Regions from separate parts of the Homo sapiens genome. Here region 2 is linked to region 1. Evidence: fine-mapped expression QTL. A gene starts in region 1. The other region holds a variant in brackets. All regions are shown on one strand. Distances are from middle to middle.

What was found. PIP is the estimated chance that this variant, and not a neighbour inherited with it, causes the effect.
Region 2: its variant is fine-mapped to the expression of MPP7 in cerebellar hemisphere (GTEx, PIP 0.99).

Annotation. Positions count from the first base shown.
Region 1 is chr10:28,294,740-28,311,467 of GRCh38, reverse strand. MPP7 (MAGUK p55 scaffold protein 7) reads left to right here and starts at 8,404. Exons shown (of 17, transcript NM_001318170.2): 1 at 8,404-8,607. MPP7-DT (MPP7 divergent transcript) reads right to left here and starts at 8,299. Exons shown (of 2, transcript XR_930772.3): 1 at 7,039-8,299; 2 at 5,197-6,069. RefSeq lists a silencer at 8,218-8,857.
Region 2 is chr10:28,361,130-28,375,124 of GRCh38, reverse strand. No RefSeq gene overlaps it. Among named protein-coding and RNA genes, the nearest start is that of MPP7-DT, 65 kb to the right of the region's middle. The variant G/C (reference allele first, on the strand shown) is at 4,614.

The DNA.
Region 1 (16,728 bases):
ATTGTGTTTTATTTAAGAAGTTCTTGACTATGTTACTGTAACACATATGGTCACATACTATGCTGGGGACCACATATAAATTGGTATAGAGGTATTCATGAGGTCGCTAGCAATCCAACTTCAGACACCCACACATCATGCTGTCATTCACACCCGTATGCCTCAGAATTATTAGATCACTCTCAGTTTACATACAGAAGTCCTTGAGTATGCAGCCAATTGCAAACCACATGGAAAATCAATCTTGAAGGGTTGCCAAATAGAAAAAAATAAATATAATGGATCACAGTCACTGCTAATACTTTAGATAAATGTTTCTTGCTCAGGTACAACTGGTTGATGAAAACTCTTTCATTTTAAAATGAGTTCCAAATGAGTTAGTTCAGTAAATCTTCACTAGATTCTTGCTATGTCTCCAACCTGTAAGCCACTGGGGATCCCATAGTGAATAAGTCAAAGCCCCTGACATTGTGGGGACAGTTTTATTTATAAGCAAGATCAAACCTGTAATTTTAGCTAAGAGAAAAATATTTTAGGTTGATGCAAAATTAATTAAGGGTTTTGCCATTACTTTTAAATGGCAAAACCCGCAATTGCTTTTGCACCAACCAAATATATTCCCCACACTTATAGACTTAGAATTCCAATGAGTCTATCAGATCAGTGCAGGGTAAAGTGGTTTATAGCTTTTTCCCAAAAATACCTGAGGGTCCTCTACCATCACCAACAGGATCACTGCTGTAATGAGGTAGATCCAGGTGTGTGCATTTGGGGAGAGCCTGTTAAGAAGCATTGAATTAGCATCTCAGTGCTTGTATAATTTGAAAAGGCTCTTCAGGTAATTTTAATACTGTTGCAAATTAATGGTATAAGGAAATTAGTTTTTTCTTATGTTTGAAACTATTAATATGATTGTTCCTGCATATGCACATGTTTATGGTATTTTTAATGGTATATAATTGAAAGTTGCTGGATTCTGGGTGATTCGTGATGGTACCATGGTGGCAACGAGTTCGTGTGACAGCGCAACAGGAGGAGATGCAGGCATGAAGACAGAACATGGGAGAGTGGAGCAGGAACCTGAGCTGGGAAGAACTGGCTGTGTGTTAGGCCATTTTTGCACTACTTAAAGGAATACCTGAGACTGGATCATTTATAAAGAAAAGAGTCAGGCACAGTGGCTCACACCTGTAATCCCAGCACTTTGGGAGGCCGATGTGGGCTGCTCACCTGAGGCCAGGAGTTCGAGACCAGCCTGGCCAACATGGTGAAACCCCGTCTCTACCAAAAATACAACAATTAGCCGGGTGTGGTGGCAGGTGCCTGTAATCCTAGCTACTTGGGAGGCTGAGGTAGGAGAATTGCTTGAACCCAGGAGGCAGAGGTTGCAGTGAGCCGAGATTGTGCTACTGCACTCCAGCCTGGGTGACAGAGCAAGACTCCGTTTAAAAAAAAAAAAAAAAAAGGTTTAATTGGCATTGGCTCCCAGTTCTGCAGGCTGGATGAGCATGGCGCCAGCATCTGCTCAGTTTCTGGGGCGGCCTCCGGGAGCTTTTATTCATGGCAGAAGGGGAAAGGGGATCAGGCATATCATGTGATGACAGCTGGAGCCAACCCTGGAGCCAATCCCCAGGGAGGGGATGTGCCACACACTTTACTCAACCAGATCTCCAAAGAACGCACTGACTGTCAGAAGGATGGCACCAAGCCACGAGGGATCCGCCCCCACGACCCAAACACCTCCCACCAGGCCCCACCTCCAACACTGGGGACCACAATTCAATGTGAGATTTTCAGGGGAAAACATCCAAATGATATCAGGTTGTTAATGATAAAGTTCAACAGCCAAACACCATCAGAGACAAACCTGCAGTCTAACTTGGTTGGGTTTATGAGCTTGTAACAAGGGGGAGTGCTCCAAGGAACCCACAGAGGGTCTCACCAAGGGAAAAAGTAGCCTTCTTGTAGGAACTGGGAGAAGGAATTGGAAGGAAACAGTGTTGTGATAGACTGAAAGCAGAGCAAGGCTGTGAGTAGCATTTTTTTTTTTTTTTGAGATGGAGTCTCACTCTGTTGCCCAGGCTGGAGTAGAGTGGTGGGATCTTGGCTCACTGCAACCTCCACATCTCGGGTTCAAGCAATTCTCCTGCCTCAGCCTCCTGAGTAGCTGGGACTACAGGCACCTGCCACCACGCTCAGCTAATTTTTGTATTTTTAGTAGAGATGGGGTTTCACGATGTTGGCCGGGCTGGTCTTGAACTCCTGACCTCAGGTGATGTGAGTAGTATCTTCTTAACATTTAGTAATATTTTTATTAACATGAGTTCTGGTGTGACAGATTCAGAGTTCTGTTTCCTTGGAGACCATAAAGTTAAATGTGGAATGCTGGGTCCCCACATCTCTGAACTGAAGGCTGGAAATAAAGACTGCTTCCTTGGGTCAAGTGATCCTCAGGCTTGAATCATCCAGGCAAGAGTGGGTGTTCCATTCTCATTGATCATCAAATAGCAGTTTCTGACTAGTTTTAGAGTTTTCCAATTTTCTTAGTCCGTGTCCTTGGTGTTAATTAACAAGAGCAGTTTTTACAGATTCACATCAATATAGAAAAATGTAAAAAGAAAGTTTTGACTGAAGCAGGAAGAGACAATAGATGTGAAATTCTTTTTTGTTGTTGTTGTCTTTTTTTTTTTGAGACAGGGTCTCACTCTGTTGCCCAGGCTGGAGTGCAATGGCGTGATCATAGCTCACTGCAGCCTCAACCTCCTGGGCTTAAACAATCCTCCTGCCTCAGCCTCCTGAATAGCTGAGACTACAGGTGTGCACTACCACACCAAGATAATTAATAGGTGTGACATTCCAAAATAAGTTGTCAGAGCAAGAAGCAAATCTTAAAAGGAAATATCCTAGCCCCTTGGTGACTCTTAAAAGTGCCTCACCCAAAATAGGATCATAAAAGGGCAGAGGAAGTGGAGTTCAGGAAAGAATCTATGAAGATGTTTTCTCTGAAGAAAGCAATTCTGTTACTCCTGCTTCTTTGAGACCTTTCTCCTTAAACTCACTAGAGAGGCAGTGTCAGTGAGGCAGACCATGAAGGCAACTTGATTTGTGTCCCCTGGTATTTGGAGACAAATCTCAAGTGGAGAGGCTGAAGATACTGGCTTGAGGCAGCAGTGGGGCAGTGGTGGAGAGAGAGAACACTGAAGACCAGTCTGCACACAGCCAGCTGCACTTTTACCAACCATGGGCGTAAAGTATGGATGAATGTCTGAAGGACCAGATAACAGCTGTTTGTTAAGAGACAGCTGGGCTGAAGGAGTTTAAATCCTGCCTACAAGGATCACCTGGAGCAGCCTAGCGACCATTTCCCTTCTTCCCCTGCAACAGGAGACTATAAAGTGACTGGCAGGGAATGAGAAAGCGAGGGGAAGTGTTAGAGAAAATTGCATTGCTCAGGTCAAGAGAAGTGGAGTTGGATGTTTCAAGTACAGGTCTCTAAGAACCCAAGAAAAGACCCAAGAAGGAAGCGCACATTTTAGTCATTGTCCAGGCTTGGAGAGCAACCCCTGCTAGCAATGCACCAGTTAAGCATGAACTTGCTAGTCCTGGACTCTTCCCCCTTCTTTTTGCAACCTGAATTTGAAGGGGATTCTAGGGGGATAGAGAGAAGGATCCTTTCCCCCTTTTTGGAGTTCCATAGCTTGGCTGCATGGGACCCTTTCTGGGGAAGCAGAGGGAAAGTTTAACTGTGAATGAAGCTTGAAAGTGTTGATCAATGGCATTTACATTAAAATTAAAGCTGTATATTGTGATTTAAACTGACCAAATGATTTTTATTACCTGTGAGCAATCAGAAAAATTTCGGGATCACCCAAGTTTTCATCCAGGGGTGGGGACAGATGTCCTCATACGGAATGCCTGTGGAAGGGATGGTGGCAGATCGAGGTTTGCCATCTGCTTCCCTTCACGCCTCTGTCCTGCTTGTTCTGCAAGCTGGTCTCATCTGAGCCCAGAGCAGCAGGCTAGTTCACTGACACTCATAGATTTGGCAGGAGCATTTGCTCTTTGAATACATTGATGTCAGGAGGTACACTTCAGATAGGGAAACAGGAAATTACTAGAAGACCTGAACAAGAATGGCAACTTGAAACTGGAACACACAAGGGTACTGGGTGTCTGGAAGCCAACTGAAGTAGAAAGATTTCCAGAGAATGTGGGAAATTACCATCCAAGCCTTCGGCCTTGGCCTCTAGGTCTCCAGTTTACTATAAACAGCAGGTGAAGACTTTCAGTAACTAGAAAGGAAGCCTCATTGACTGGCGATTGAAAATGTCAGGGGTGCAATGAATGCGTGTCTGGTAATCTGCCCAGTGTGTCTTCTCTGGGAAACCTCTGCTCATAAACAGGGATGGGCCCTGGCAGCCATACTGGTCCCCTGCAGCCCCCATCATCTATGATTAGGGTTAGGGTTAGGCAGGTGATTTAGTCCTTGTGGGTGCAGCTCTGGAACATCATTTCTCTGACACTGGGACATAGGAGCCAGGGGCTGGTTATCAGAATAGGAGAATAGAGCACAGGTGTAGAGAGAGCACCTGCTATGGAAAAAAATTCCATTGAGTTCCTCCTGGCTTTTCAGGTCTGCGATCTGGGTCTTCCTGAGGACTAACTTATTTTTGCCTTTGGGTTCTATTATACATCTATCTAATCTATCAATCAACGATCTATTATCTATCTATCAACTATCTATTATCTATCATCTATCTATCAACTATCTATTATCTATCATCTCTCTCTCTCTCTCTATCTATCTATCATCTATTTTAGAGACAGGGTCTTACTCTGTTGCCCAGGCTGGAACGCAGTGGCAAAATCTCTGTTCACTGCAGCCTAGAACTCCTGGCCTCAAGCAATCCTCCCACCTCAGCCTCCCGAGTAGCTAGGACTACAGCTGCACACCACCAAACCTGGCTAATTTTTAAATTTTTTGTAAAGATGTCTTGCTATGTTGCTCAGGCTGGTGTTGATTTCCTGGCCTCAAGTAATCTTTCCACCTTGGCCTCCAAAGTTGTTGAGATTATGGGCATGGGCTACTGTATGCAGCCTCTTCTGTCTATCTAATGAATTTCTGTCCTCTATTAGGGTGAAGAGATAGCTTTTCAGTGGCTTTGAAGCATTGTGCCAAATATTTCAAAGATCACATTTTAAAATCTACTTTTTGATTTATTTAGTTGCTGCAAATTTTGACTTATCTGTCACTAATCAGCTGGATGTACTGAGATACTTTGACATTTCCTAATGTCTGGTGCTTTCTCTTTCTGGCCCTCCATAGTGAGGGCTGGATCTCTTCCCTTATAGGTATCTGCTAATGCTGGAGGCTCAACTGATAAAGTAAAGATAGCCATCCCAAGAAGCAGGCGGAAAGGCTGGGGCTAATAGAACAGATCTCTACTCCAGGGGCTTCAATTCTGCCCTAGTTCTGGTCAAATAGGATTAATACTGCTCACCGTTACTATCCTAAAAGGGCTGTCATGGTTGAAAGTGGGCATTTACTATTTTCAGTGTCTTTTGTTGCTGGAATAAAGGAGATGATAATATGAAACAAAAATCAGGTTGCTTCTCCTCATATTTTGCTCAGCTCCCAAGCATTCAGAATGTCGTTACTAATTAGACATTTGTTTCAACATTCTGGGGCCATCCAGGCTAGGCAATCTTGTGATGTGGGGAAAGTTGACTGGTTATGCAATGGCTTTGCATTAGATCCCCTGCTCCCTTGCAGGCGCTGAATGCTCTTCTGTTGTTCTCTGGATCTAGAACCCTGTCCCTTTTCTCTGGGATGGCTCCTACTGATGTTTCAGCTTATTCCTCATTTGCTGCAGGACAGTCTCCTTGGCCCCATAGTACTCTTGATTTCCCCATCACCTGTGCAGTAATAGTTTCTCTATAGATCCACCAGTCTTGTCTTATTCATTGTTATATCCACAGATCTAACCTATTTCTAGTAAACAGTAGGTTCTTCCTAGATCCATTCCTGATGATTGGCTTAATGAATGAATGCTCATTTTACTGGTGACTCTGAAAAAGGAAAAAAAAAAATAATGATTTTACTCCACTATCAGCAACTCGATGTTGCCCGTCAGGAATCCTTGTAACAAAATACAAAGTTACCATTGCCTACGAGGTCCTCACCTCCTTCTCCAACCTGTCTAGTAGCACTCTCCTTATGCACCATGATACCCATGCTGGCTTTCTCTCTGTTCCTGCTATACATCACTTTTCTTCCTACTTCAAGTCCTTTGTTCTTGCTATTTTATCTGCCCTGGAGTTTTGCTAAGTTGGTGTTTTCTTATTTAGGTGGTGCCTCAAATCTTAGAGCATTTCTCTTAGATCATTTCTCCTTAAAGCATTTTTCTCCTTTCCCAAAATTAAGTGTGTCTCCCATCCCTCTGGTCACTGTTTTCTTCTTTGCCCTGATCCCGGTCTGGAAGTTTATCTTTTTATTGGATCATTGTCCATCTTCTGATAAAAACAGCTGCAAGTCTGTCTTGTTCAAGGCTATACTCTGAGTGCTTAGTAGAAAGCCTCGTTCATTGCAGTATCTAGTATTTGATGATTAATATTGATTACGTTTGATGAGTAAATGAATAAAAGAATAATCTTAGACATACATTATTTAATCCCAGTGAAAGAATGTTAGTGATGGAATTTCAGGTGTTATTGTAGAAGAAACTTTTGAAGGGTATTCCCTACAGTTTGTTCATACTAGGCTAAGTTCCTCTTCTTTTCCTTACACAATGTAAAAATATTAGATCTCAAAACTATTTGCTCAAAGTACTTACTTTAGGACACGTATTTTTAGACTACAGTTTAGAATTACAGTTATTATTAGAAAGGTTTGGTAAAAACTCTTTTTGTTAGGCAATAAGGTTATTCTGTCCTCCAAAGACCTTTACTTTATTCTCAGGAAGTAAGAGAGAAAAAAGAATTTCTTGTCTTCTTTCTATCAGGTGTTTTGCCCTTACTTCTCTTTAAGTTTATGTTTACCTTAACATTCCTTTCCTTCCTCAGGTTTGCTTTTTGTCTATCTCCATTTTTCACTATTACGTAATTCACGGAGTTGCTGGGGGGAAGTGCTTAATTTCAAATAGCCTGTTTTAGAACTTTGCGAGAATGACAAGAACAAACAGAATGTTAAGGCAGCTAGAGAGAGTTAAGTGAGAGTGGTCCCTAGGTGAGAAATGCTTCTTGCCTTCTAGGCTGACACCAGTTCTGGGGGATGTGTTCTGAGAGCTCATATTAACTGCAGGTCATTGATCCTTATCTCAATCCCCTTCCTCTCCCTTCAGCTTTCCATTCAAAGTCTCTATCACATCTTGAAGTGTTGTCACATTATTTTTTTTCTGATGATTCCCTCCATCAGCTGAGCTTTCCAATTTATATTACCTGATTTTTTTTTGTCTTCTGCTTTTTACTACCCCTTTTTCTAAAGCTTTATTGATTGTGTACTTTGGATTCTAATTCTTCCTATAAGAGTCTTCCTGTAATTCTGTTTGCAGTGTAGTGCTGTCCACATTATGTGTTGGTTACATGATAGGAAGGAGTATGGGGGCACCTCGGTCACATATGTAAAGTTCTTTAAGAGAGCTGAAGGGCGCTGATACCAGTTCATGTTTTTTCGGGGTAGCCCTCAGATATTAAGCATGTTTACTGTATTTTCTTCTATTGTGAAAGAATCAGTTCTCTGGATTTCCTTAAAGTTTGTCTTTACCATTCTCCGCACCCTACTCATTTTTCTATTTAAGAATTTTTTTTTCTAATCATGTAGTACATGTTCAATATGGAACACAAAAAGGTAATAAGAAAAAGTCACCTACAGTGTCGCCAAAGGTGAAAACACCTTATGTCTTTTTTCGTGCATAACAATATCCCTCTCAATCTTATGCAGCATTTTTAAACCTAGGAGACTTGTCTGAATCCAAAGGAAGTTAAAGATTACGTTATTCACCAAGTTCATACTGAAATCAGAGAATCGCAGCGGCTTAAGAAAACTCGCATCTGGCGAATGAACCTGCGTATCCGGGGTTCTCCTCAGGGAGGTTGCTCGTCCATGAAACACACTCCAGTCTGCAGCCACCTGGGAGTGGGAACCAAGGGCGAGCGAACCGGGCGGGCAGGGGTGGAACTTGCGGGGACTGCGGGTATGAGGAGGAGCTACAGAGCTGTCACCAATCAGAGCCCAGCTTTGTTTTCTCTTGCCGACCAATGAGGGAGTTCTGCTGGAGAGGCGTCTTCAAGTCTGAGACGCCTATCGCCTTCGCAGCCTATCAGCAGGCCCCTCTTACCCGCGGGCGGTGCAGCCCCGCCCCGCCCCTCCAACCGCGGTCCCGCCCCTCCGAGGGTGGGGGCCGTGTTGGTTACTAGCCGGGCTGGAGGCGGGGGCCGGGCTCCCACTGGGCTCGTGCGTTCTGCGCCCGCCGCGGCGGTGCCGAGCCCGCTGGCTCCCGATTGTCCTCTGCGGCGGTGGCGGTCGCTGCCTCCTTGCCTCCGGGCCCGGGGCTGCAGGGGCCAGAGCGAGTGCGCCTCCTGCCCGCGGACCGCGGCAGCCCAGAGCAGGTAATGGGGCGCCTCTGGGGAGCGCCTGTCGGAGCCCAGGGCTAGGCTCGGGCGGTGGGGTCGGCCCCCGAAGCTGCTCCCTGCGCCGGCGACCGGGCCGAGCGGTGCCGCGGTCCTCCGGAGCCTCCTGCCGGCCTCTAGGCGCCTCAGCCTGGGAGCCCGCGGCGGGCACCTTGTGAGGAGGTGGGGGCGGGGCCGGGGCAGGGGCGGGGCCGCCTCGGGCGGGACCCTGAGGACCCCTGGAGACCCCTGTTGACGCGCGGGACTCCGGGCGGGGGCGGCGGCGGGGCAGACCCAGAGCGGGGAGAACCGACAGGTGGAGGAAAAACTGCGGAGTTGAGTCAGAGTCCGGCTCCCCGGGGAAAAGAACCGACTGAAAGGGAGCGATAAGCTGGCTGGCTTCTTTTTTTTCTTTCCCTAAGCCAGAAAGGCGTCTTCACTTGGGTCGTGTTAATTACATGTTTTCTGAGAACAGGCGTTTGGCCGTGTAATCTACACGATAGCATTATTTATTTACTTATTTGCTATTTAAAAAATTAAAAGCAGCATTTAGCGTGAATCTATTTGGGGGCTTTTTCTTAAGTGACAGGTAGACCCAGCCGAGTAACTCAGCTTTGTCTGGGCTGAAGTGGGGAGCGGTGAGGTAGGAATGAGGGGGAGGAGTGTTCGTGAGGAATGCCTGTGCAGGTTTGAAAGGATTGTGGGGGTGGGACCTTGTTTCTGTCACTGTGCCATGGGTGGGAGTAGAATTGTGATTTTTTTCTTTTTCTAATTTTTAAAAGCAATATTCACATTTAAAAAAGGGGGGGCTCTCTAAAAACAGTCTCTGTACTCGAGGCTTTGGGGATGCACCTGCTAGTCAGGCAGTAATAGTTTGCAGGTAAATCCTGGGCTATTAATTACGTAATTTGATTTACTTATAAAGAAGTATCTTGAATTGTTGCTGCCTTTCCTTTGACTTGCTCAATATATTGCTTGTTTACAAGTGAATTGATGAAGGTCACTGAGTTTTAGCGGTAATGTCACAGCGATGGCCCTTGGAGAGTTTTCTATGCTCAGGTTCACTCTGGTTCTATAAAAACAGTATTTCCATTTAATCGTGAAGCTCATAGCACTCTATCAATTATATAGTATGCCATCCTCCTACTCTTCTGAGGCAGGCTGTGCATAGCATGTCCATTTTACAGGTATGTCAACTGAAAGCCCTAGAAATGAAAGGAATCCTGCCCCACTTTACTCCTACTTTATTTTATACCTATAATGGATTTAATCCAAAATCTGGGTAAGATTCCCGCCATCAAGCCAACTTCTGCATACCAATTTGATCCCGTATACACAGGTCAGAGGTGGAGATGGTTATTTTCAAGTAAAGAAATATTATCTGCGAGGTTTTTCTTTCCATTCAGGTTGCTTAGCTAGTTTGAATTTCAGGTGAAAGGTAATTTTCCACACAGGCAAAACAAACAAAAGTTAGGAATGCTGTGTGAAAATCTCTATTTTAAATTTTGGGAAGCTTTCCAAATTAGAGAACCTTATTTGTGTTTGCATCTCTAGCTCAGCATTGAATTTCGGTACCTTTTTTTGAATTGAATAGAAATAATTGATATGCAGAAGGAAAATACTAATGAAGTGTAATGCATTTTGATCATGACTTATGACTTTGTTTCGGGAAGTGTTTACTGTAAATTTATAGACGGATTGAAGAATAATTTCTTAATTAGAATAACTTGACCAAAGGAGTTTGGGCATTAGTGTGGGACAGGCTGAAATGGGTAGTTGGGAGTAGCCGCTTGTATGATGTTAAGGCTTAGGGAATTCTAGAGAATCGTTAGGTTTTGTTAAATTTACTAGTTATCAGGAACATGAAAATGTCTTATGGATTACTGAATGGAACTCTTTTTTTTTTTTTTTCTGAGGTGGAGTCTCACTCTGTTGTCCAGGCTGGAGTGCTGTGGCTCACTGTGATCTCTGCCTCCCTGGTTCAAGTGATTCTCCTGCCTCAGCCTCTTGAGTAGCTGGGACTACAGGCGCATGCCACCACGCCCAGCTATTTTTTTTTTTTTAATATTTTTGTAGAGATGGGGTTTCACTATGTTGGCCAGGCTGGTCTCGAACTCCTGACCTCAAGTGATCTGCCTGCCTTGGCCTCCCAAAGTGCTGGGATTACAGGCGTGAGCCATTGCACCCAGCCTGAATGTAACTGTTCTAATCATGAAGTTATCTCTTGTTTTGTGGCTAATACCTCTGTTTCACATGTACATTTTAACATATTCATGTAACATATAAGGCAACTCTTCTTACACAAGGCTGTCACTCTAGCCCAGCATTTATTTACTTATTTATGTTTTAGTGGCTTTATTTAACTTTTACTCTCCTGTCAAAATTTCTAGCACCCAAGCAAAAATTTCCATAAAGGAACTTTTATCATCTGTTGATTATACAGAAAATGAATCATTTATTCTCATAAGCCCAGCCCTCTTGCATTGTGGGACACTGGAAAGATATTTTGGCTGTTTGTAAAGTATTTGCTTGTATTCTTACCTGAAGCTTTGACTTCTCCCCCTCCCCCAATGGTTTTCAGAGTTTCTGTGACTTTTTTCTTTAAATTAATTATGACACTACCTGACTTCCACTAGATGGTGCACTGGGGGGCGCTTACTGGAGATTTCAAACAGATTTTTGTTTTTCCTTGTTATAAACATTTCACTGACAAAGATACAAAGGTACTGCAGCTGTTTCTCTCCTAATTGCAATTCAGACAAAATTGTAATGAATGACTTAAGTCTTGAGTTTTGGCCAGGCATGGTGGCTCACGCCTGTAATCCCAGCACTTTGGGAGGCCGAGGCGGGCGGATCACAAGGTCAGGAGATTGAGACCATCCTGGCTAACACGGTGAAACCCTGTCTCTACTAAAAAATAGAAAAAATTAGCCGGGCGTGGTGGTGGGCGCCTGTAATCCCAGCTACTCGGGAGGCTGAGGCAGGAGAATTGGCCTGAACCCAAGAGGCAGAGCTTGCAGTAAGCTGAGATCGTGCCACTGCACTCCAGCCTGGGCCACAGAGCGAGACTCCGTCTCAAAAAAAAAAAAAAAAAGTCTTGAATTTTGTTAAATGAGATACATTCGGAAGGAAAGGGTATTCCTTCATTTTGAATTTAAAGTGAAGGAAATTGTTAGTCAGGCTTGCTCTCTGAAGATACTGTGTTTTTTACAAACTGAAGGTTCGTTGGCAACCCTGCAAGTCGATTGGTGCTATTTTTCCAATAGTGTATGTTCATTTTGTGTGTCTCTGTCATATTTTGGTAATTCTCACAATATTGCAAACTTTTCATTGTTATTCTGTCTGTTATGGTGATCTCTGGTCAGTGATCTTTGATGTTACGATTCTAATTGTTTTGGGGCTCCATGAACTGCACCTATATAATATGGTGAACTTAACTGATAAATGTTACATATGTTCTGATATCTCCACCAACTGGCCATTCCCCAACTCTCTTCCTCTCCCCAGGCCTCCCTATTCCCTGAGACACAACAATATTGAAATTAGGCCAATTAATAACTCTACATTGGCATCTAAGTATTCAAGTGAATGGAGAGTCGCGTGTCTCCCACTTTAAATCAAAAAGCTACAAATGAGTGAGCTTAGTGAGGAGGTCATGACAAAAGCTGAAACAGGCCAAAAGCTAGGCCTCTTGCACCAAACAAGCGAGCTCTGAATGCAAAGGAAAGGTTCTTGAAAGAAACTAAAAGTGCTACTCTGCTGAACGTCCAAATGATAAGAAAGTGAAACAGCCTTATTGCTAATATAGAGAAGGTTTTAGTGGTCTGGATAGAAGATCAGACCAGCCACAACATTCCCTTAAGCCAGCAGAGCAAAACCCTCTCTTCAATTCGATGAAGGCTGAGAGAGGTAAGGAAGTTACAGAAGAAAAGTTGGAAGCTAGAAGAGGTTGGTTCATGAGGTTTAAGGAAAGAAGCTGCTTCCCTAATGTAAAAGTGCAAGGTGAAGCAGCAAATGCTGATATAGAAGCTGTAGCATGTTATCCAGAATATCTAGCTAAGATCACTGATGAAGGTGGCTACACTGAACAACAGATTTTCAGTGTAGATGAAACAGCCTTATATTGGAAGAAGATGCCGTCTCGGACTTTCTTAGCTAGAAGGAAGTCAGTGCTTCACCTCAAAGGCCAGGCTGACTCTTTTGTTTGGAGCTAGTGCAGCTGGTGACTTTAAGTTGAAGCCACTGCTCATCTACCATTCCAAAAATTGTTAAGCGTCATGCAAAATCTACTCTGCCTGTGCTCTATAAATGGAGCGACAAAGCCTGGATGACAGTACATCTGTTTATGGCGTGGTTTACTGAATCTGTTAAGCTCACTGTCGAGACCCACTGCTCAGAAGAAAGGGTACCATTGAACAAGTGCTGCTCATTGACAATGCACCTGGTCACCCAAGAGCTCTGATGGAGATGTACAAGGAAATTAATGTTTTCATACCTGCTAACACAACATCCACTCTGTACCCATGGATCTAGGAGTCATTTCAACTTTCAAGAGTTATTATTTAAGAAGCACATCTTGTAAAGCTATAGCTGCCATAGATAGTGATTGTTCTGATGGATCTTGGCTAAGTAAATTGAAAACCTGGAAAGGATTCACAATTCTAGATGCCATTAAGGGCATTTGTGATTCAAAGGAGGAGGTCAAAATGTCACCATTAACAGGAATTTAGAAGAAGTTGATTCCAGCTCTCATGGATGACTTTGAGGGGTTCAAGACTTCAGTGGAAGAAGTACCTGCAGATGTGGTGGAAATAGTATACTGAGAACTAGAATTAGAAGTAGACCCTGAAAATATGACTGAATTGCTGCAATCTTATTATCAAACTCGAATGGATGAAGAGTTGCTTCTTCTGAATGAGCAAAGAAAGTGGCTTCTTGAGAGAGAGTCTATTCTTGGTGAAGATGCTGTGAGCATTGTTGAAATGACAATGAACGATTTACAATATTCTGTAAACTTGGTTAATAAAGCAGTGGCAGGGTATGATAGGATTGACTTCAATTGTGAATGAGGTTCTACTGTGGGTGAAATGCTACCAAAAGAGAGATCTTTTCTGAAAGGCAGAGTGAGTTGATGTGGCAAACTTCATTTTTTTTATTTTTTTGAGACGGAGTCTCGCTCTGTTGCCCAGGCTGGAGTGCAATGGCACGATCTTGGCTCACTGCAACCTCCGCCTCCCAGGTTTAAGAGATTCTCCTGTCTCAGCCTCCTGAGTAGCTGGGATTACAGGTGCACACTGCCACAGCTGGCTAATTTTTTATATTTTAGTAGAGATGGGGTTTCACTCTGTTGACCAGGCTGGTCTTGAACTCCTGAGCTCACGCAGTCCACCCACCTCAGCCTCCCAAAGTGTTAGGATTACAGGCGTGAGCCACAGCGCCCGGCCTTATTGTTTTCTTATTTTAAGAAATTGCCACAGCCATCCATCTTTCAGCAGCCAGCACCTTGTTCAGTCAGCAGCCATCAACATCAAGGCAAAATCCTCCACCAGCAAAAAGATTATGACTCCCTGAAGGCTCGGATGATCACTAGCATTTTAAAAAAATTATAAAGCATTTTAAAATTAAGAGCTAATGCTATTGCCAACATAATAGACTACAGTATACTGTAAATATAACTTCTATATGCACTTGGAAAGCAGAAACATTTCTGTTACCTTATTGCAGTGTTAGTTTTACTAAGGTGGTCTGGAATGGAACATGTGATATCTTCAAGGTATGCCTACGATTTCAGAAATAACCTCTCCTATTGAACCCTCTGATTCTTCCTGTGTTCAGAAACCCAGACCAAAGTGTAGATTTATTGGTCTTTATTTATGAGTAGTTGAATTTTTTTAATGTCTTGTGTTTTGTTTAAATTTTATGTAAACTGCGGCTTAGCTCTTTCAGCATAGTCTTATGCTTTGCTTTCTTAGATTACTGAGTCTTTAAAAGAACTGGTAAAGTGCATATGTGTGGAAAGATTATTTGCTACCTACTATGAACAGATACTTAAGTAAAAAAACAAAAACAAAAAAACCCAAGATGTTTTTTCCAGGCATATAAATGTTTTTTTCTTGAAGAGGCATTTAGTCTTTCTATTTACTAGAACATTATCAGCTTGCTTTACTTATGAAAGAGAGGAGACCATTCTTTTCTCTGTGAATTTAGGAGCTATTTGTCAGGCTTGTTTATTACTGATTGGGTTGCTTGTTACTGATTGTTAGAGAAGGGAGATGAAAATACATAGCAGTTGCGATATCCATTTTGGGTATAGAACTGGCAATGTTAGTGGAGATTAAAGACTAGCTGGTACGACTGCATTTTGCAAGATATTTTGAAGACAACTTTGGACTTTGAAAATGCAGGATAGGAATCTAAGTGAGAAAGTCTTTCAGTGGTTGGGGTGTGTGTGTGTTCACTTCAGTTGCACTGAACTGTGGGTGGGGAGGAGAGCAATAGTAAATTGTTTCTTACCAGAACACTGCCAGTTCTTAGGGGATTTGGTGGAGATTTGGGAGAGAGAAAATAAATAGGATTCAGCCCTTCTAGGAAGGTCATTCTTGGCAGTGCCTTCAGCCCTTAGGAGAGCGTGGGCATGGAAAAGGTGGGTGGTTGTAAGTAGCCAGGCAGATTAAAAGGCTGCTTCCTAGAGTTTTCTTTACCTTTGATGACCTTAATCAGGTCATTAAGCATTTTAAGACAGGTTTATAGCTCTCCTGTGGTCCAAGCTTGGACTAAGTACTCCTTAATCTTCAATTTTATGTTTTAAATTTTTGGAATAAGTAGAAACCTGAAATTTATAAAATTAATGACTTGAGTATGCGAGTGAATAGCTTCAGAGAGTTATTTGGCTTATGGAAGATTTCAGATTATGGTAGGTGCTTGAATATACTTATTTCTCATACTCTTTCTTCCATCCCTTTAACAACAAAAAAAGGCCTTATTAGAAATAGGCAAACTTGAATACACATAGAGCTGTACTGCTCAAATTGAGTACTTGAGTTGGGGAGAAAAGTCTCCCGGTCTAGATATAGCTTTGAAAAGAGAAGGATCAGGTAGGATGCCGTACACGGCAGGTGTGTGCAGGGACAGGGATAACGTTAACCCCTTTTGCTGTGAATATTGTCAGAGGGTCTGATGTGTAATTAGGCATTCCTTAGCTTCACTCCTGATAAAAACACACTCTTGGACAGTTTCTCTGTATGTGCACTTAAAGCAGTTTGAATCTTGTTAATCAAATATTTCTCGGGGTTGTAACTTCTTTTTTTGGCATTGGGAAGACTGTTGAAGTCATGTTGTAAAAATTTGGAGTTGAGCCTGGGATCAAAATTTGGAGTTATGGCCCAAGATTTATCAAGCTTCTGCTGATATTCAAAATATTGTTTTTTTCTCTTCCTATTATGGCTTCTGATTACTTCTGAAGAGTGAGTTCAGACCTCTGTGCTCTAACGCTCATCAGAGTACCCTTTTTGTACATAGTATAATCAGGATAGAGATTAGGCATTTTGTCAAGTTTGGGAGAAAGAAGTTGAGCAGTGAGGAAATGAACTAACACTGTTTTCGTTTCTTCATAGTCATTTTAAATAGGATACAAATTTTATATTTTAGAAGTTTCAAAATGGTAGTAATTTCACCTTTCACATTATGCTTAGTATGAAAAATTTCTACCAGTGGTTCTCAAACTTTAGCATACCTTGGGATCACACGGAGGGCTTGTGAAACCTTAGGCAGCTGCCTTCCAGCCCCAGAATTTCTGATCAGTCGGTCTGGGAGGGGAGGTCCTGGCGATTTGCATTTCTAATAAGTTCTAAGGCCATGTGCTACAGCCACTGCAGGGGCCAGCCACTCTAGGGGGAAACGTAAGTGTAGTGGTTAACACTTTGAAAGACCTGGGTTTGAATCTCTGCTCTGCTGCTTTCTAGTACTTTGACTTTAGGCAAGTTTCTTAACCTCTGTTGTTCCGTCTCTAAAGTGGAAATAATATAGTATTTTGTTGTGAATGTAAGTGGGCTCCAATGTGTAGAAGCTCAGGGAACAGGGCCTTGCAGATTGCAAGCATGCAATAAATGTTTTCTTTTATCC
Region 2 (13,995 bases), 65 kb before region 1:
GAATAACATTCCAACATCAAGTTAAAACTAATGCAACAAAAATATTCAATACTAAGAGAAAGTCACATGGCGGATTGCACCTTTAAAAAAAAAAAGTGTTTTTAGGCCGGGCGCGTTGGCTCATGCCTGTAATCCCAGCATTTTAGGAGGCCAAGGCAGGCAGATTACTGGAGGTCAGAAGTTCGAGACCAGCCTGGCAAATATGGTGAAACCCTGTCTCTACCAAACAAACAAAAAACTAGCCAGGCCCAGCTACTTGGGAGGCTGAGGCAGGAGAATTGCCTGAACCTGGGAGGGGGAGGTTGCAGTAGCTGAGATAGTGCCACTGTACTCCAGCCTGGGTGACAGGGACTCCGTTAAAAAAAAAAAAAAAAAATTTCAAGTAGCATTTAGCTGAGTTCCAGAATAAAATTTCTCCTGTGTGCAGACAGAACTTGTGTAGTTGTAAGGTCTCAGAAGGGTAAGTGCACCTGAATGGTGAAATGCTAACCATTTGGAAATATATTGATTATGAATTTATGTATTATGCATTATATTATATATTTATATATTTTATGTATAATACTTGTACCTATATATTTATATCATAATTATAATTATCAGCCTTCCACAACTAAAATGTAAGTTATCAGAGAACAAGGATTTTGCTCTGTTTTATTCACAATTAACACAATAGTTTAAAAAGTAAATGACTAATAGAATACATTAACTTGTAAGGAAACTTGTTTATAATTGAGCCTGAGTTCCACAAGATGCCAGGGTAGCTTTGGAGGGGCGGATGGGATGGGGTGGCGGTGCAGGAAGGGCTGTGGGGTGAGGTGGGGTCTGTGCTGGGCAAAGAGAGGGTGGATGGAGAAAGGGAGGAAGCCAAGGGTAGGAGTTCAAGCTACAGAGATGGAAACTGTGTTCTCATTGGAATGTTCATGGGAGGATTTAGTGGGACCCAGGTCAGGGAAATACATTCCTGTTTTGTTTTTTTTTTTCCAGTTTTGTATCTCTTCTGCTGTTAATTTTTTGAAAATGTGCATTTGTCTATTTTAAAATATAAATTGTCCATAATGGTCTCTTATTTGTCTAATCTATTCCAATGATTTTGATTTTTTTCTTACAATTTTTCTTCTTTCATTTATGTTTTTCTCAGTGACAATTTCATAAATTAGACTATGTCGATGGAGGAGTTTTCTTATTCAAATAACTCCATTCGAATGTATTTGTTTATTTAAATGATGGCCTGGTTTGTAATTTTTCATTCATAAATTCTTTCTTCTGATATCTTCAAGATTTTATTCTTTCCTTTTCTTCTTTTCTAGAGTCCTGATGTGAGTGTTTGATAATTTAACAGACAAAATAACTGTGTGGCTCCTGAAATTGGCCTTTTTTGGGGGTCTCTTCAGAGGCTTCAGGGAGAGGCAGGGGACCCAGGGAGAGGTAGGGGACCCAGGGAGAGGCAGGGGACCCAGGGAAGAGCAGGTGCTGCTAATTTCCATCTCTTTTGCCTGGATTTTAAAATGGCTCACAATGCCAAATCCTAAACTATATTCTTTCAAACATCAACCACCTTGGAATTGCCCCCTTTTGGAATTTTAAAATACGAGCTTGCTTTGTTTTCTCTGCCACCTTGCCATGACCTCACCCAAATGCTGTCTCCAGATTTCCCACCTAGGTTTTACAGGCAGAATATATATATATATACATACATATATATATACATATGTATATATATGTGTGTATATATATGTGTGTATATATATATATTTCTTTTTTTTTTTTTTTGAGACAGAGTCTCACTCTGTGGTCTAGGCTGGAGTGCAGTGGTGCAATCTCAGCTCACTGCAACCTCTGCTTCCCGGGTTCAAGCAATCCTCCTGCCTCAGCCTCCCAAGTAGTTGGGACTACAGGCGTGCGCCACCATGCCCGGCTAATTTTTGTAATTTTAGTAGAGATGGGGTCTCGCTATGTTGCCCAGGCTGGTCTCAAACTCCTGGACTCAAGCCATCTGCTGGCTTTGGCTTCCCAAAGTGCTGAGATTACAGGCGTGAGCCACTGGGCCCAGCCTGCAGGCAGAATACTTTATAGTGATAGAAAGTAGCGACCCTGAAGTTACATAATTCCAGGTTCACATCCCAGTTCTGCTACTTCCTCGCTGCATGACCTTTCTCTGGTTATTTAGCCCAAGCCTCAGTCTCCTCACCTGTCAGATGAGGGTCATGATAGCACCTGCTTCAAATAGCACTTCCGAGCATGAAAAGAGATGGTGTATGTCAAAGACCTATCACAAAAGGAATATTTGCTAGTTTGTTAAGCTTTTCTAGGGGCTTTTACATACAGGGTTGTTTCTTGTTTTGTTTTTTGTTTACGACAGGGTCTTGCTCTATTGCCCAGGCTGGAGTATGGTGGCACGATCACAGCTCACTGCAGCCTCAAACTTCTGAGCTCCGGTGATCCTCCTGCCTCAGCCTTACAAGTGGCTAGGGCTACGGATGTGCACCAGCACACATGGTGAATTTAAAAAAAGGTTTAAGAGGCAGAGTCTCACATTGTTGCCCAGACTGGTCTCAAATTCCTGGCCTCAAGGGATCTTCCCGATTCAGCCCCTCAAGTAGTTGAGATTTCAGGCGTGTGCCACTGTGCCCAGCTCTACTTCAGGTTTTTAAGTGTCATCTCACTGCCCAAGGGATTAGCTATTATTCTCAGTTCATCGTGAGGAAAGACACAAAGATACTAAATGCAATTTCTGCAATTAACGACTAATTAGTGACTAGAATTTGAGATTCCTTATTCCCAGACGCGTTGCTCTTTCTAAGGCGGCAAGTTAGCTCTTGGCCAAAACTGAAAATTAATTATTTTTTTTGCCCGTAGTGCCCAAACACCCCTCCTTACATTCTCTAATTCTTTCCCTGGGTCTTTTTCGTCTCTCTCAAGTCTTAACAGATAACACTTAACATGTTCTCCCTCCCAGAAGCATTTGGGTTATTTTTTTAATTTTTAAAAATTTCAACTGTTGTTTTAGATTTGGGGGTACATGTGCAGGTTTGTTATCTGGGTATATTGTGTGATGCTGAGGTTTGGGGTACAGTTGATCCCATCACCCATGTAGTGAGCATAGCACCCAATAGTTTTTCAACCCTTGCCCTCCTCATTTCTCCTCTCTCTAGTAGTCCCCAGCATCTATTGTTGCCATCTTTATGTCCCCATATACCCAATGTTTAGCTCCCACTTACAAGTGAGAACATGTGGTATTTGGTTTTCTGTTCCTGTATCAATTCACTTAGGATAATGGCCTCCAGCTGTATGCATGTTGTACAAAGGACATGATCTCATTCTTTTTTATGGCTGCATAGTATTCCATGGTGTATATGCACCACATTTTCTTTATCCAGTCCACCACTGATGGGCACCGTTTGATTCCATATCTTTGCTACCATGAATGGTGCTCCCAACAGCATTTGTCTTTTATCAGTGAATTCTTTAAAAATCAGAAAGCCTTCAAGAGGTGAAGAATGAACATCTAAAACAATTCTTAAGGCCAGGAACAGTGTCAAACAAGGGGCCTTCTCAGGGAGTGTACTTTTTTATTATATCTTGTGGTCAGAAGAATAATGCCCCCGAAAGATGTCCACATCCTAATTCCCAGACGCTGCCTTGTCACCGAATGTGACAAAGGGACTTTTTAGATGTAGGATCTTCAAATGGCGAGCTTATCCTGGATTTTCCTGGATTATTCAGGCAGACTCGGTGTCATCTCAAGGGTTCTTATAAGAGGGAGGCAGAGGGTCTGAGTCAGAGGAGGCAACCTGATGATGAAAGCAGGGGTGAGTGTGTGTGTGTGTGTGTGTGTGTGTGTGTGTGTGTGTGTGTGACAGAGAGGGAGAGAGAACCCTTTGACGGTGCTGCATTGCTGACTTTGAAACTGGAGGAAGGGTCAAGGAGTCCAGGAATCCAGGCAGCTCCTAGAAGTCAGAAAAGGCAGGTACATGAATTGTCCCACTGAGCTTCCAGAAGCAATGCAACTCCTGACACCTTGAATTTGGGAGTTCTGACATCCAAAAGCATAAGATAATAAATTTGTGTTGTTTTAAGTCACTAAGTTTGCATTAATTTTTAACAGCAGCAAAGGGAATCCAATACACATCTTACAGTCCATCTGTGGCCAAACAGATTCAACTTTTCCACCATTCAACTATTTGCAACACCTACCAAATGGTTCAAAGCAGCATGGTGCTGCACACCTCTTGCAAAATGAACTATATGATGAGAATTAACTAAGAGTTCAAACTTGAAACCATTGGCTTGGGGAATGATTCGATCAATACTAGGGGAGATATAACAGTATGGAAAAGATGCTGTTGATTCTGGCCAATGCATATTGCTGTGCAGTTTGGGCCCAGCTGAGAGTGCCTGACTGTGGGGGCAAATGACAGGTGAAGTCCAGGCCAAGCACCATCTGCCAAGTAGTGCACCTGGTCATGCAGCGGCCTTTGCCTGGAGGAAGGAACACCATTTTCTAATTTGCCCAAAGGCACCAGATGGACTAGCAACAGTCCCAGAAGACTTAGCATGGTTCTGCCAAGGACTGAGGGTGTGAATTCAGGTTTGCTACCACTTATCATTTT[G/C]GATAGAAGCTACAATTAATTAGGTAATTCACTTCTTTGGCATTCAATTTCATTGCTTAAAAGGGAGACTTCAGGTGAAATGAACTCATTGTTACTAACTCCACTCCAGCCCTGCATGCCTTCTTGCTGTTCCTCAAGCACATACCTCCTACCCCAGGGCCTTTGCACTCACTGTTTCCACTACCCACCACCTGGCTTGCTTGCTTCCTTCCTTCATTCCTTCCTTCCTTCCCTCCTTCCCTCTTTCCTTTCTCTTTCTCTCTTTCTCCCTTCCTTCCATCCTCTCTTTCTCCCTCCCTCTCTCTTTCTCTTTCTTTCTTTGGGCCTTGGTTTGTTGCCCAGAAGGGAGTGCAGTGCTGTGGTCATAGTTCACTCCAGCCTCAAACTCCTTGGCTCAAGTGATCCTCCCACCTCAGCCTCCTGAGTAGCTGGGACTACAGGTGTGCACCACCATGTCTGGCTAATTTTTTTTTTTTTTTTTTTTTTGAGATGGAGTCTCACTCTGTCACCCAGGTTGGAGTGCAGTGGCACAATCTCGGCTCACTACAACTTCCGCCTCCCAGGTACAAGTAATGTTCCTGCCTCAGCCTCCCGAGTAGCTGGGACTACAGATGCGCACCACCACATCTGGCTAAATTTTGTATTTTTAGTAGAGACCTACTGACCTCGTGATCCACCTGCCTCAGCCTCCCAAAGTACTGGGATTACAGGTGTGAGCCACCGCGCCCAGCCCCTGTCTGGCTAATTTTTATTTTATTTTTTTAGAGATGGAGTCTTGCTATGTCGCCCAGGCTGGTCTCAAACTCCTGGCCTTACGTGATCCTCCCACTTTGGCCTCCCAAAGTGTTGGGATTACAGGCATGAGGGACTGGGCCCAGCCCTAATAAATATTTCTTGAAGGCATAGACTTTTCTTCTTATGTTAAAACTGACTTCCACAATAGGATGCTTCGGCGTTTCATGTTTTGTGTATGTGAGTGTAATTTTGCTCCCTGGTGGGGTGTAAATTTACTTTCTGAGGCATGGGGGTGAAGGTGACAGTGACTAGTATATTGCTTCAGGATGTGTTCTGGCCCCTTCTTATGGTGTCACCATCTTCTAGGATGTGGCCAGAGCACGGTGAGGTATGTAACAAAATGAAACCTTTTGCTTAAAATCAAATTGGCCAGCAGGGCGCGGTGGCTCACGCCTGTAATCCCAGCACTTTGGGAGGCCAAGGCAGGTGGATCACAAGGTCAGGAGATCGAGACCATCCTGGCCAACATGGTGAAACCGTCTCTACTAAAAATACAAAAAAATCAGCTGGGTGCGGTGGTGCACACCTGTAGTCCCAGTTACTCAGGAGGCTGAGGCAGGAGAATGGCTTGAACCCAGGAGGTGGAGGTTGCAGTGAGCTGAGATTGTGCCACTGCACTCCAGCCTGGTGACAGAGTGAGACTCCGTCTCAAAAAAAAAAAAAAAAAAAAATCGGTCAAAGTACAATATTTGCTTCCTACTCTGCTCATCTTCACCTGAAAAATCTACAGATTCTTCAGATTGCAAACCCATGCTTACCAAAGATAAATGCTTGCACTTTGCATGAATTTGAAAATGTATCTCTTATTTTTCATTCAAGACTCCAAGTTGGCCAGACAGGATGACTCATGCCTGTAATCCCAGCACTTTGGGAGGCCAAGGCAGGTGGATCACATGAGGTCAGGAGTTCAAGACCAGTCTGGCTAACATGGTGAAACCTCGTCTCTACCAAAAATACAAAAATTAGCTGGGTGTGGTGGTGCGTACCTGTAATCCCAGCTACTCAGGAGGCTGAGGCAGGAGAATTGCTTGAATCCAGGAGGCAGAGGTTGCAGTGAGCTGAGATTGTGCCACTGCACTCCAGCCTGGGCTAACGAGCGAGACTCCGTCTCAAAAAATAAAAATAAATAAAAATACAAAATAAAAATAAAGACTCCAACTCAATATTTGGGGAAAAAAAGCCACTTTTATCCCTGTCTTTGACCCCTTAATCATTTTTCCTTTGCTGGACCTAGTCCTGTCTCTCTGAACTCTCTGCTGCAATTTCCTGACACTGTGGCCCAGGTCTGGGGAGCTCTTTGGGTGGGGCTGAATGCCGAAGCTCACTCACCACTTCCCTTCTTTTCAAAAGAAGCGAAAGTCTTTCTAGTTCCTTCGGTTTGGGTACTTTCTTTAAGTATGTGCCTGAGTAGACAAGTCATCGTATTTCCTGATTCTGCTCACTGAAAGTAGTTTCTACTTGTGTGCAGGAATAGCTTCTAGCTCTGATGCTTAATTCTTTTGACTTAAATATCCCCATATGGTGGGAGGTCTAGAGAGGAATTTATACCACTGAGACTCTCACTATATATATTTTTTCTGTCAGTTACTCTTGTAAGCTGTGAGTCTTTAATGATTACCATATGCACAGGCCCATATGGTCTGAGCCTCCACTCAGCACGTGTTCCTTGATCATAATGTCACAGAGCAGTGTGGCTTTTCCTGTGAGCATTCTGTGCAACATAGCATGGTGACAGATACCTTATCCGGAGTCGCCATTTTATTTTTTCAACGTTTTCAGTGCGTCTTTGGAAACACTAGCCAGCCACTTGTAGACACGTCAAGTACAGATTCATATTTGAAATATCCTGGGTAAATATTTAAAGTATTTCTGTGCCAAGCAAAGTGGCTCATGCCAGTACTTTGGGAGGCTGAGGCGGGAGGATCAGTTGAGGCCACGAGTTTGAGACCAGTCTCGGCAACATAGTGAGACCCTGTCTCTACAAAAGTAAAAAAATTAGCCGGGCATGGTGCTGCACCTGTAGTCCCAGCTATTCGGGAACCTGAGAAGATGACTTGAGCCTGGGAATTGAAGGCTGCAGAGAGCCACGATTGCATCACTGCACTCCAGCCTTGGCGACAGAGAAAGAACTGTCTCAAAAAACAAAAAACAAACAAAGTCTCTCTGTAAGTTTGTCTGTCCATGATACGCAGGGAAATTCAGAGAGGAATTTGAATGTAACTTTTATCTCTGTAAAACAGTAGCATTCCTTCTTTCTGGCCATACTAAGGACCTGTTCCCTAAATGGCTGGAGCCCACGTTAGTTTGAATTGCTGCGTGTGAAGCAAAAATGCAATTTCATTATCCGAACAAAACAACTTGGCTTCATCGTGGGAAGCTCGTTAATTTCAAATGGAAAATAATCAACCCAGAAAAGGATGGGTGGGCTTTTTCTTCCTCTTTTTCCTGTAAACTAGAGGAAAATGGTTTTTGGCTGAAAGATAGCTTGGCAAGAAGCTTGACTCTTCAAAAGGAAGCCCCTGTAGAGAGCAGATAGGCTCTGACAGTGGGGGGCACAGGTCTGTGTCCATTTGTCACACGATTTTGAAACTGGCAGGGGTGCCCCTGCTGCTTATATCACAAGAGGGTTTCCACAAGGCACGTGTTCTCCAGTGAGGGTTCTCAGTAACTCATGAGCCATTTGCGACTCGGTACAAATTCCCAGGGGCCCAATCTCTCCTCTTTTGCCTGCTCCACCTAATTCTAGATTAATGTCATGGGTGGGTGAGAAGAAAAAGAAAATTATAAGACTTTCTATCTATTTTTATTTTTATTTTTTATGACACAGGGTCTTGCTCTGTCACCCAGGCTGGAGTGCAGTGGTGCAATTATGGCTTACTGCAGCCTCAACCTCCCAGGCTCCAGCTATCCTCCCACCTCAGCCTCCTGAGTAGCTGGAACCACAGGTGTGCACCACTACACCTGGTTAAGTTTTGTATTTTTTGTAGGGATGGGGTCTTGCTATGTTGCCCAGGCTGGTTTTGAACTCCTGAGCTCAAGCAATCCACCTGCCCAAGCCTCCCAAAGTGCTGGGATTACAGGTATGAACAGTCACGCCCAGCTTCTAGCTATTTTATTTTAGATTCAGGGGGTGCACGTGCATGTTTGTTACATGGGTGTGTTGCATCCTGGTGGGACTGGACTTCTAGCTTACCCATCACCCAAATAATGAACGTTGTACCCTTTAGCTTTTTAAATAGTAACAATGAAAGCAAATCTGAAAACCACTGGATTATACACCCCAGTCTATAAAGATAGAAGCAAATTATATGTAAACACTGCATACATGTTGGGGATCAGCAAACGATACCCCAAAATATGGTGCTTTGACATACTGAAATAAAGAAGCAGCCTCAAGTTCACTCTGACCTTCTCCCCACCTCCAACTCCTGTCTCTTCACCTTCTGTCTCTCCCAAATGCACAAGAAGAGAATGTTCTCTGAAGTTCCCTAATCTAGGTAGAAACTGGACCCGCCAAAAAGGAACACAATTGCCTTCAATATCCTCCCTGAAATTTCATTAACCTGAGAAGATTAAAGCTTGTATCACAGAGGAGACTGAAAGTGAAACACCACACCTGGAGCCCAGATGAACTTTGTCCCAAACTATCATCTGTTCTCTGATCCCATTCAATTTCCAAAGAGAATCATTTACTTACCATTGTCTGAGCATGGGGCTCATTCATCTCCCCTATAAATCATTCACTACGTCTAAAAATAGCCATATTTCCCTTTTCTCCCATTCCTCCACAAAGAAGGATATAAAAGCAACTGAGCCTCATTGGGTTACTGGGTAATCATCCTTCTGTGACTCCCCTGTGCTAATGCACATTACATACATTTGTTTGCTGTTTTCTTCTATTAACCTGGCTATTGTCCATTCATGTTCAGCACATCTTTCAGAGGGCGGAGGTGAAGCTTTTCCTTTACCCCTAAATCTGCATAAGCAGCTCACTTTTCAGTTTCCTTCATATGTTGTTTTCATCACTCTTTCTCCTTCTTCCTCCTTTTTTCACTTATCCTATTTTTCTCAACCTGTTTTATTTTTGTTTTTCTCCTCCAACTCTTTCCTATTCTGTCTTTCCTCTTCCTTATTATTTTTCCTTCTTTTCTCTGTGAGCCTCTCCTTCCTCTGTAATTTCTGTCTTCCACAGCAGGCAATAGGAGAGCTCTAGATTTCATGTGCCACAACCTGGACTGGAAAAAGATATGAAGCCAGGTCACGTGGTAGCAACAATTGAGTCTTTTAAAACATTTCCAGGGTCCCAAAGTAGTACTTAGGATAAAACCCCTTTATTGTCTCCATATTGTCTTCTTGCATTAGGATTTTTAAAAATTGCACTTTTATAATGTTTTTTTTTAAACATAACTTAAGGCTGGGCGCAGTGGCTCACGTCTGTAATCCCAGCACTTTGGGAGGCCGAGGCAGGCAGATCACCTGAGATCAGGAGTTCGAGACCAGCCTGGCCAACATAGTGAAACCCTGTCTCTACTAAAAATAAAAAAATTAGCAGGGCGTGGTGGTGTGCACCTGTAGTCCCAGCTACTCAGGGGGCTGAGGCTTGAGAACTGCTTGAGCCTGGGAGGCAGAGGTTACAGTGAGCTGAGATTGCACTACTGCATTCCAGCCTGGGCAACAGAGCAAAACTCTGTCTGTAAAAATATATGTATTTTATTTTATATATATATATATAAACTTAAGAATGTTTGACTTGTAAATATTTCAGTATTATTTTAAAATCAAGGCTAGGATGTGTGGGGGTTTCATACTTGTAAATGAGTTTAGGTTGTATTATACCTGTTGTGATTTTTTTTCATTAGTATCATTTTTTAAAAAATGTTTTTCAAAATAATTTGTGTAATAGATCATCATAGCACTTTCTGTTAGAAAAGTTTTCTTAATTATAATCATTAAGTTGGCTAACTTTTCTGAGGCAGTAATAATGGCTTTTAGGTGATAGGGTGGTGGTAGACTTTGTTTTTTTATTTTTATTTTTTTGAGATAGGGTCTCGCTCTGTTGCCTAGGCTGGAGTACAGTGGTGTGATGCTTATAGCTCACTACAGCCTCGAACTCCTGGGCTCAAGAAATCCTCCTGCTTTGGCATCCCCAGTAGCTTCAGCCTCCCCAGTAGACTTTTATCTATGCTCAGCCTGTTTTGTTTTAAATTTTTTGTAGAGATAGAGTCTCATTACATTGCCCAGGCTGGTCTTGAACTCCTGACCTCAAGTGATCCTCCTATCTCAGGCTCCCAAAGCACTGGGTTACAGGCATGAGCCACCATGCCTAGCCTTATTGTTCTGTTTTTTAAAACAATTATCCAGTGATGTGAAGTTGTGAGAAAGAAGTTGACATCACACTGTAGTTTCTCCTCCTCCTCCTCCTCCTCCTTCTTCGTTTTTTTTTTTTTTTTTTTGATGGAGTCTTGTTCCATCACCAGGCTGGAGTGCAGTGGCATGATCTCAGCTCACTGCATCCTCCATCTCCCAAGCTCAAGCGATTCTCCTGCCTCAGCCTCCCAAGTAGCTGGGACTACAGGCGTGTGCCACCACGCCCGGCTAATTTTTTGTATTTTAGTAGAGGGGTTTCACCATGGGTTTACTCTTCTTCAGAATATTTATTAATTGTGTTGCAGTGCACTCTTACATAAATGCTGGGAGAGTCTCCTTTTTGCCCTCTGGAAAGGCTGGTCCTGGATGCAAGTTTCTCATCTTTCCGCAGTGTTCTCTGAGGGGCCTTTTGCGTATGTGTTATTATAACCCTCCCTATCACAGCCTGGCTGGGGTCACACTCTTCCCCGTTGGTTCAGGGGGCCTAGGCTCAGATCCCACTCATGTGAGACCCAGTGTGACTACCGAGCCTACTTGTGAATTCTGGAATCAAGATTCAGAATCAGATCCAGGGGAGGACTTCTCATTCTCTCTTGCAGAATTGTCCTTTGGCTTGAAGTACATGTTCTGATACATTCCTCTTCTTCATAGAAATGTCTCTACATGGAGAAAAGTATAAAAATAAAATAACATGTGGTGTCATCTTCCAAAGAAAAGGCCTAAATAAGGTGTGGTTTGAAGTTAGCAGATGTTTCCTCAACATAATGCTGACAATAGGCCCTTACCATAATGACTGGATTCCCTTATCTTTATCTTCTCAGGGCATAGCAAGTATCTGGCCATAACAGGCTCTTTATTCATTTTGAATGAATACATAACATAAAATACATTAAATAGGTTGTAATAGCATTCTAGAAATTCAATAATATGAAAGAGAAAGAGAGAAGGAGAATGGGCCAAAATATAATAAGATTTCAGTGTCGAAATCAATTATATTAACTAAAGACATTACTACTATATATGAAAAGTGCTCTGAGCTGGTCATGGTGGCTCATGCTTGTAATCCCACCACATTGGAAGGTCGAGGTGAGACGGCTTGAGGCCAAGAGTTTGAGACCAGCCTAGGCAATATAGTGAGACAGCCCCAGCATGTTTACACAAAAACTAAAAAAATTAGCTGGGAATTGTGGCACACCTGTAGTCCCAGGTACTTAGGAGGCTGAAGCAAGGGGTTCATTTGAGCCTAGAGGTTCAAGGCTGCAGTGAGCTATGATTGCACCACGGTACTCCAGCGTGGGCCACAGAGTGAGACCTTATCTCTTAAAAAAATTAAAAATAAACATAAAAAATAAAAAGACCCTTGCATTTTTCCCTACAGCTTATACAACAAACAGTACACAAGTGTACTGTAAGATACTTCTGACATATGTATATACCTTTGAAACCAGAACTGTAACTAAGATAATAAATGTATTCATCACCCTCACAAGATTCTTCTCATCCTCATGTAATCTTTCTCTCCTGTCCCTGTCCATTCACTTCCTGTCCCTAGGCAACCGTGATCTGCTTTTTGTCACTGTAGATTTATTTGTATTTCCTAGAATTTTATGGAAGTGGAACTAGATCCACATATCAAATACTGTGTATATAGTGTATGTACTCTTTTTTGACGGGCTTTTTTCACTCCGCATAATGTAATTATGTTGCTGTGTGTATCAGTAACCCATTTCTTTTAAATGCCTGACCACTCTTCCATTGTATGGATACACCACAGTTTGTTTATCCACTCACCTGTGTGGGCATTTGTGTGTTCCCAGTTTGGGATAATGGTGAATAAAACACCTGTAAACTTTCACGTATGATGCTTTCCAAAGTAGTCGTCCATTTTACATTCTTGCCAGCGTTGTATGAGGGTTCCGCTTGCTCATCATCCCCAACACTTGGCATGGTCGGTGTCTTTCATTTTAGCCACTCTACTGGGTATGTCGTGGTATTGCACTTTGTTTTTGTTTTTGTTTTTGTTTTTTTTGAGACGGAGTCTCACTCTGTCGCCCAGGCTGGAGTGCAGTGGCGCGATCTCGGCTCACTGCAAGCTCCACCTCCTGGGTTCACGCCATTCTCCTGCCTCAGCCTCATGAGTAGCTGGGACTACAGGCGCCCGCCACCAGGCCCGGCTAATTTTTTTTGTATTTTTAGTAGAGACGGGGTTTCACCGTGTTAGTCAGGATGGTCTCGATCTCCTGACCTCGCTGACCTCGTGATTCACCCGCCTTGGCCCCCCAAAAGTGCTGGGATTATAGGTGTGCGCCACCGCGCCGGCCTGTTTTGTTTGTTTGTTTGTTTGTTTGTTTGTTTGTTTGTTTTGAGATGGAGTCTTGCTCTGACGCCCAGGCTGGAGTGCAGTGGCTTGATCTCAGCTCACTGCAACCTCCAACTCCTGGATTCAAGCGATTCTCCTGCCTCAGACTCCTAAGTAGCCGAGATTACAGGTGGGTGCCACCACGCCCAGCTAATTTTTTTTTTTTTTTTTTTTTTTTTTTGAGATGGAGTCTCGCTCTGTCGCCCAGGCTGGAGTGCAGTGGCGGGATCTCGGCTCACTGCAAGCTCCGCCTCCCGGGTTCACGCCATTCTCCTGCCTCAGCCTCCCAAGTAGCTGGGACTACAGGCGCCCGCCACCACGCCCGGCTAATTTTTTGTATTTTTAGTAGAGACGGAGTTTCACCGTTTTAGCCGGGATGGTCTCGATCTCCTGACCTCGTGATCCGCCCGCCTCGGCCTCCCAAAGTGCTGGGATTACAGGCGTGAGCCACCGCGCCCGGCCTAATTTTTGTATTTTTAGTAGAGACAGGGTTTCACCATGTTGGTCATGCTGGTCTCACCATGTTGGTCATGTTGGTCACCTCGTGATCTGCTCGCCTTGGCCTCCCAAAGTGCTGGGATTACAGGCATGAGCCAACGCACCTGGCTTTGCACTGTGGTTTTAATTTTCATCTTACCAGTGATGAATGATGTTGCGTGTTTTTTCATGTGCTCATTTGCCATCCATATATCTTCTTTGGTGAAGTGTCTGTTCAACTCTTTTGCCCATTTAAAAAACTGTCTTGCTTATTTTCTTCTTGAGTTTTGAGAGTTAAGATTGTTTTTAAACAATCTTAAAGGTGTCTTTAAAAGATTAATGGGGCTTTTTAACGGAAAAAGCAGAGCAAACTTTGCAATTCTA